Linked DNA regions of Homo sapiens. The protein of the gene in region 2 interacts with the protein of the main gene of each other region in a pairwise test. Each region holds a gene or a part of one and is shown on either strand. Other genes may lie near its edges.

What was found.
Region 1: the proteins of SEZ6 (region 2) and CHDH interact in a two-hybrid assay, tested with the Homo sapiens proteins (one large-scale study listed by BioGRID and IntAct).

The regions. Positions count from the first base shown.
Region 1 is NC_000003.12:53,836,389-53,840,192, forward strand, and holds part of CHDH (choline dehydrogenase, mitochondrial), read right to left. Parts: intron 1-3,804.
Region 2 is NC_000017.11:29,003,141-29,007,564, forward strand, and holds the start of SEZ6 (seizure protein 6 homolog isoform 1 precursor), read right to left. Parts: upstream 2,894-4,424; 5' UTR 2,730-2,893; coding exon 2,675-2,729; intron 1-2,674. UniProt on the Homo sapiens protein: May play a role in cell-cell recognition and in neuronal membrane signaling. Seems to be important for the achievement of the necessary balance between dendrite elongation and branching during the elaboration of a complex dendritic arbor.

The DNA.
Region 1 (3,804 bases), on a different chromosome or scaffold from region 2:
CCAGGTGCATGGTCCACCTTCCCTTCCTCCCCAGGGCCTTTGCACATGCTGTTCTCTCCTCCAGGTACAGGTGCTAACCTCCTTTCACCTACTCACTCCTCACCTTCCCTCAGGCATGGATTGCCCTCCTCACCACTGACCACATCCATCCTGGGACTTCTCTGTGCCACTTACTGGGACCTCAACAGGCTAATAGTGAGATGAGCTGTGGAAAGCCCACATCCCTGGCTGAGGGCTCCACGCCCTTGCCTCCCACCATGTGCTGAGCTTGGCCTGAGGCTGGCGCTGCGTCATGCTGGCCAAGGGGACACATGCAGGGGATGAGGCTGCACGTGGCCTACAGCAAACCCAACCTGCGCAGTCTGAGATGTGGATGCTGAGCTCATACACCTGTGCCAGGACCAACAGAAGGCACCCCCTGGGAATGTTCTAGATCCAGACCTGGTGATGGTTACCCAGGCATACACACAGATCAAAACCAACATGATGGACACTTCGTATGTCTGTTGCACCTCAATTAAAATGTTTAAAACAATTTTTTGAAAGCATTTTCTGGGCTGAGGCAGGATTGCTTGATGCAGTTGAGGAGTTGAAGACCAGCCTGGGCAACATAGCAAAACCCAGAAATTTTTTCTAAAAAAAAACTTGTTTTTTAATTAGCCAGGCACGGTGGTGTGTACCTATAGTCCTAGCTACTCAGAAGGCTGAGGCAGGAGAATCACTTCAGCCCAGGAGTTCAAGGCTGCAGTGAGCTAGCACTGTTCCACTGTACTCCAGCATGGGCAATAGAGCAAGACCCTGTCTCTAAAAGAAAAAAAAAAAAGGGCATTTTCTTTAGTGTCAAGTTTCTCTTTCCAGGAATCTCATCTCCCACATATTGATACATAATTAACAACTGAATTGGAAACTGCTACCTGGGAGATGATTCTGGACAGTGTGGACGAGGCCATACCACTTGGCCCCTTGTGCCCTGGCTGCTCGGGCGTAGCCCACCTGCCCTCTGGATCCTCTTGGTAAAAAGGGGCAGATGGGACTGGGCTGAGGCTACAGGCTGCCAACAAAACCCGAGGTGGAGCCCTGAAGTCTGACATCGCATCAGAGCTCTGCCAGGCCGCACCGTGTGACCCAGGGCAGGGTTTCCTGTTGGTAAGGCGTGGGCGCTGGCCTCTGCGGGCACCTCCGATGCCTGTGGCTCCTCTGAAGTAAGTCTGCCCTCCTGCCTCCCCTCTGCTGCCCCACTGTGGGTGCTTCCTCAGCCTGGGAACCTTGTGCTCCACATTCCAGGCCTCTGCCCTCTGCACACATCCCTCCACTCTCTAGCTGCTTCACCACTTTCTAAAACCTTCACGGTGGTCTATACCAAAAGCAGAGTGTATGTAAGGTGGGAGGCCGGGCGCGGTGGCTCACATCTGTAATCCCAGCACTTTGGGAGGCTGAGGTGGGCAGATCACCTAAGGTCAGGAGTTCAAGACCAGCCTGGCCAACATGGCAAAACCTCATCTCTACTAAAAATACAAAAATTAGCCGGGTGTGGTGGCACACGCCTTGTAGTCCCAGCTACTCGAGGCTTAGGCAAAAGAATCGCTTGAACCTGGGAGGCACAGGTTGCCATGAGCCAAGATCGTATCACTGCACTCCAACCTGGGCGACAGAGTGAGACTCTGTCTCAAAAAAAAAAAAAAAAAAAAAAAAAAAAGAGACTGTAAGATTGGAAACCTGGAGTTCTAACACCCAGGCAAGGGTGGGGGGCCCAGGCCGCTCAACCTCCACGGATGGCTCCTCAGGGTAACCTACTATTTCTTCTCCCTTGCAGGCGTGTCTGTGGATCCAGTCTGTGCAGGTGCTGCGGGCGCCCAGCCATGGGTAGGAGGCAGGGTACAACAGAGGTCGCTGCTGGGGAGACCCGAATCCCTTAGGGGCCCCTCCCAGAGTCAAGCACCTGATAGACTAGGGGATGGGGGATACAGTGCCTCAGGCTGGCCCCTGAGGAAGACTGGCCACTGTGCTCCAGATGTGTACTCCCTGCACTCTGGGCTGCACTGTGCCTGGGTGAGTGGCATCTGCAGCACAGAGGGCCTCGGGTGAAAGTAGGGAGGTGGGTATGGGTAACCCGGAGCACAGCCAGAGGCAGACCGAGGGGATAGAAGGCGCTGGTGTCCCAGCTCTTATGCAGTCACATAGCAGCAAAAGAAAGACAACTGCTGTTCCCTCTCCAGGGGAGATGAAGGCTCTCCTCATGGGCAGGCTTCAGAGGCCAGGAGTTACCAAGCTCCCACCTGGCAGAGCCCATCATGGAGCTGCTCTTCCTGCCATGTGCATTCACTTACAGACAGCAGTGGGGGAGAGCTAGAAGCTCCCAGAGCCACGTACACAGCAGGCACTCAATAAACGCTTGTCATGTGACTGGTATATAAAAATGCACTATCCGGGGAGGAAAAGCAGACACAGAAGCAGAGGCCTAGGGGGTAGTAGCTTCTCTCATAAGGATGAGGCTGGTGCTGCAGAATCTGCCCACTTTTGTCCACCCCTTGGACACCACCTGGATCAGGCCCCATCATCTCCACTGGGACCCTCCTCACAACATACTAGCAGTGTCCCTGCTACTAGTGCTGCCTCCTCAGGCTACCCCAGAACCAACTCTCCACAGAGTAGCCAGGGTGATGTCAGAACAAGCGGGGAGCCCGGACCAGCAGAAGGAGAAAAAGATATGGGCGAGGGTCAGCTGGGGACTCACCAAGGTGACTTCACACACATGAGGCAATTAAAAGACCGACTTCTCTGTATAGTCCAGGCAGGGGTCTGAACGGGAGAATGCAATACCACCTATAAAACATCCTTGCCCAAAAGTTCAAACCTGAATCTGATCACACTTCTAGATCAATCCACCGACTCACAAGAAACGCAAAGGTCAGAGCAACTTGCAAAGGTCCATCATCAGCAGAATCCAAGTGCAGGGAAACCCCACACAGTTCTTCAACAATAAATCCAAGTATAGAATGGATAAATGAGAGAGAGATGAGAGAGAGGAAGGGAAGCCTACAGGCTGTGAGAGGAACAAGATCCAACCATGAGAATGTGCTGCTCTTCACTGGACCCTGCTCATCTGAACACTGAGTGCGTATGTGAGGATGTCAAGATATCATTATTTGTCAGACATGACTATGATTCTGCAGTTATGTTGTTTAAACTCACCCTTTCAGGAACCTTTGTACATTGTTTGTGGGAATGCAAATTAGTACAGCCACTGTGGAAAACAATATGGAGATGCCTCAAAACACTAAAAATAGAAATATCATATAATCCAACAATCCCACTACTGGGCTGGGTATATAGAAGAAAGGAAGTCAATATATCAAAGAGATATCTGCACATTCATGTTTACTGCAGCACTATTCCCAATAGCCAAGACATGGAATCAACCTAAGTACCCATTAATGGACAAACAGATTTTTTAAAAATGTGATCCATATACACAATGGAGTACTATTCAACCATCACAAAGAATGAGTTCCTGTCATTTGCAGCAACACTGATGGAAATGGAGGTCGTTATGTTAAGTGAAATAAGCCAAGCACAGAAAGTCAAAAATCACATTCTCACTCATGGTGCGGAGGCTAAAAAAGTGGATCTCAGGAAGATAGGGAGTAGATGGGTAGTTATCAGAGTTCAGGAAGGGAAGGGAGGATGGAGGGTTAAAGATAGACAGTTAGATAGAAGAATTATCTAATATACAGTTAGATAGAAGAAATGAGATCTAGTATTTGACAGGTCAGTATGGTGACTGTAGTTAACAACCTGTTATAC
Region 2 (4,424 bases):
AAATTAGGAGAATGACTAAAGGTAATTGCTCATTAAAAATCATTAAACTGACACAGCAGGCTCGGCACACGCAGCCCCTTCAACACCGCTTTTTCCTCCACTGTGGCTGGATGGCCCAGGCACCCCACACAGCTTGGGAAGATACCCCGTGGCCCAAGACGCCCCTGATGCCTGACGCCAATCAAGACTTGGAGGCTGCAGAAGGGAATAGGGGACTGAGCCTGTGAGCTTGGGCCAAGCCCAGCACGATTTTGCCCTACCTCCGCAGCCTCGGCATACCAGGCCTTCCAAGGCATCTGGGCCGTGCCTGGCTACATCCTGCAGTCTGCATCCTGCCTATGAGCAAAGCTCTGAGGGCCTCATCAGAGAGGTGGCGGGGCTGAAAGGCTGAGGGATGCACCCCTCGGGCCGAAAAGGCTCATAGCCTGAGGTCTTTGCTCCTTTAGGCTCGCCTTCACAAAGCTAAAGTGCCCAGGAACCCCGGGATGGCCAAATGCGCTGCTCCCCACTGAGATGACTCACTATCCCAATGGTTGGGACCTCCAGTCCAGCCGAGGAGAGAGGAGCCTCTGGCTACCCAGCTCTGACATCCCAGCCCTCTCATCCTCAGGCTTGGCACTTCGGGGCTGCCTCTTCGTCTCCCTTGGGGAGTGAAAATAGAGGTCTTTCCCAACAGCCAGACTCCTACCCCACATATCCCACTGGCAGGTGCCTCCATGGGCACTGGAGATCCTGATAGTCAGGAAGGGACACTGCCCAGGGACACACAGACTTGAGGCCACAGAGTGAGCAGATTCCTCCTAACACTCACACCCACATCCCCATCAGGGCTGGTGGGACTCCTGGCCACACCAGCCTTCCTCCTGGATTCCCACAGTCTCACTCTAGCCCTGCAGGGAGCTCTCTGGCTGAGGCTGCACCCACACACTAGTGGCCTCACACAGTCCTCACACCCATTCACTGCTGACCCCTCACCCAAGATTCGGACCACTTGAAGTGCAGACACACTGGGACTGGCTCCTCTAGTCATGCAGGGCCCTGATTACTCTCACATTCAGACCCACAAACTCACACACAAGGCCTTGACTAACTGCCAGGGGACAGACACAGGCCCTGCGCCCCAGGGGAGCTGTCCAGCGCCAGGACCCATCAGGACCCAAGATAGGTTCGGAATTCCTAGGGACATCCCCAGGCAGCTAGGCAGGGATTCACACTTCTCCTTCCCGGTCTTCATCCCTGGGGTGGGTCTTGCAGGACTCTTCCCCTCTCCCCAGAACGTGAGCACACGGTTTCAAGTTCTGGGCGCTGCCGGAGGATCCAGCATGGGCAGCCCGGTAGCGGGGTGAGGACACTGGGCTGTGTGCAAGTGGAGCTAGAGGCTCAGAAAAAGGCTTCTGCGTCTCCGGGGCCACAGTTTTTCTTCCTGGATGAAGAAAACTGCCGTCCGGGGGCCCAGCCTGTCCCTGGCCGCGCTGCCTTGACCTCGGCAGCGGCCTGGAAAGATCGAGCAGGGAGGTTAGAAACTCCCACCCTCACACTTCACATCAGGCCCTTCAAACCATATGGCAAGGGATGGCAGGTCTCAACTCCAAGTGCGGTTCTGCCGACCCTACCAGCCTACTGCAGCGGGAGAAGGACGTGGGTGCCAGTAGCTTCCATGAGAGCTTGTTTGAGCCAGGACGGCAGGTCCAGACAAGACTCTTCCCCGAGGCACGGAACCCCTATCCTCTCCCCAACACTCCCTTGCCGCTCACACCATGGCCAAGCTTCCCTCTACCCAAGACCGACGAAGTTGGGGACCAGACTCCTAGAGGGGGCGCGGGGATTCTCAGGGTGTGGGGAACAGGTCCTCCAGAGACAAATCTGCCTTGCAGGTGGGGAGTGGACCAGGGCCGGGCAGGAAGGCAGGCCGGGAGGGAGGCAGAGCTCGGGGCAGTGGTGTGTGTGTGTGTGTGTGTGTGTGTGTGTGTGTGTGTGTACAAGGAAAGGACTTTGGGGAGGACAGAGTCTCTATCCCAGGATCTCCGCTGCTGCAGCCGAGGGCAGAGCCAGGAGCCAGATAGGGGGTCCAGGCCCTTGGAGTTTCTCTCTAGAATTGTGCTCTAGGTCCCGACTCTGGCGTGGCAGCGCCAGGGCATGGGGAGGTGAGCGAGGTCCCAACCCCGGGTCCGGCCGCCATCCGGCCCCGTCTCCCCTCAGTAAGAACACTAGAGGCCCTGGAACCGGCGGCAAAGTCGAGCGAAGTTTGGCGGGCGGCAGGGGAAGCGGGACCACGGGCCGCCAGCTGGACCGTCCCGACTCACTGCCTTGCGCCCCCCGGCACGCGCCCCAGCACCCTGAGATGCCTAGAGTGTGGCGAGGTAGCGCGCGGGTGAGCGCGTGTGTGCGGGGAGTGGGTGGCGTGATGAATTGCATCAGAGAAATCCCATTAGATCTGGGGAGATGATTAAAGACGAGGTCTCGGCCGGGCGCGAATGGCGGGAGCCGCGGCAGCTTCCCGCCCGCGAAGCCCGCGCCCCGCCCGGCTTGGCCGGCGCCGGGGGCAGCGCAGCCGGCGGGGCGCGGTGCTTGGACTGGGCAGCCAGATGCCCGAAGCTGGGCACCGGGTCTCCCTTCCCACCCCTGGGGCCCCGCTCCCGCCCCCGTCCTGCCGCCGGATGCCGGGGTCCCTTACCGTGAGCCAGGAGCGCCAGCAGCGAGGGCAGGAGCAGCAGGGCTACCGGGCGCATGGTGCTGGTTGCGGCCGCGCCCTGGGCTGGGACCGCGGCGGGAGGGCGGGGGGCTTGGTGGGGCTTGGGCGCGGGGGCAGAGCCGGGTCCGGCCGGGTAGAGGGAGCGGGGCCGCAGCCGTCACCGCCGCTGCCGCCGCCAGCGCCTGACAGAATCAGCACCACGGCCAGCGCCTGGCGACGGCGCCGGGGATCGCCGAGCGGGGCTGGGGGCGGGGGCGCGGGAGGAGCGGCTTACCGTAAAGTCTCATGCAAAGGCGCAGAGACCCAGGGGCAGGAGCCCAGGCTCCCGCTCCACCGCGACTGCCCTACTCATGTGGGCACACGGCCCCTGCCCTTCTGCGCTGCCCACCCCCAGCCAAGCATGCCACCCTCTTTCCCGTTAACGGCCTGCTAAGGAACCTCAATTAATAGCTCACTGTAGCCTTCTGATTCTCCATGAGAAAGAGCAACACTTTCCCCACCCCTCTCCACCCAATCCTGGTACCTGAGGGCGTCAAGGGTGACCTGGGAAGACATCCGAGAGTGAGGCAGCTGGTGAGGCCCGCGTGCCCTTGTGGCAGTTCCGTCTTGGGACGATAATGAAGATGGCTTTTGAGCGTACAAAGGATAATAAATTATTACTTTGCGCTCAATAAATGCCAGGGCTCCAGGCAGCTGCATCAGCAGCAAACTGTGCTCACAGAAAAGCTTAATTATCCTGATATTATAGTTAAAAGCCAGTGGCACTCGCATCCTGGGGAGACATTCTTCACTTGGCAGGAGGCAACCTGGGCCAAGCTGTGGGCAGCTGAAGGTAGTATCCTGGGTCCCCACGTAGCCCTGGGTCTCCAGGACTCTGCCTTGGCCCCTCTGCAGGACCAGAGAAGCCACAGTGACAGTCGATACAGACCCTTCATGCCATCTCTGCCCAGGTTTCTGGAATTGGTGGAGAAAATGGCATAGGCATGAGAGAGGGTTTCCTAGAGCTGTTATTTTATTTTATTTTATTATTGTTTTTAGAGACAGGGTCTCTGTTGCTTAGGCTGGAAATGCAGTGGCACAATTATATTAATAGCTCACCCAAACTCCTGGGCTCAAGAGATCCTCCCACTTCAGCCTCTCAAGTAGCTAGAACTACAGGCATGCACCCCCAAGCCTGGCTAATTTTTAAATTTTTTGCAGAGATAAGGTCTCATTATGTTGCCCAAACTGGTCTTGAAATCCTGGCCTCAAGAGATCCTCCCGCCTTGGCCTCCCAAAGTGCTGGGATTACAGGCATGAGCCACTGTGCCCTACGGCTGTTTTAGATAGAGACTTGAAGGAGGCCCAGGGGTGTAGCCTGTACTATTAAAGGCATGGAAAAATAACTTTCCAGGGCCCTGCTTGGGCTGAGGAGCCCCAGTGAGTCACAGGACAGCAAGGGGGCAGTCACAGCTGTGCCATCCTGAGGCTGCTCTTTAAAGGCAGGGGCTCATGGATGGGCTCACTTGAAGAGCTTTAATGGGTACAATGGGACAGGATCCTATGGCTGATGTTATTATTCCCTGTAGAGGAATAGGAGGGCTGAACTCCCTATTGCCCCTGGGAGAAGGGCAGTTTTTTGTTTAGTTTCTTTTTACATGAACTTGGTTGCTCTCCAAAGCTTCCAGACTCCAGTCATTGTCCAGTGTCCTTCCTGACCCTCATCCTGGAAGCAGGTGGTGAAATTTCTGCT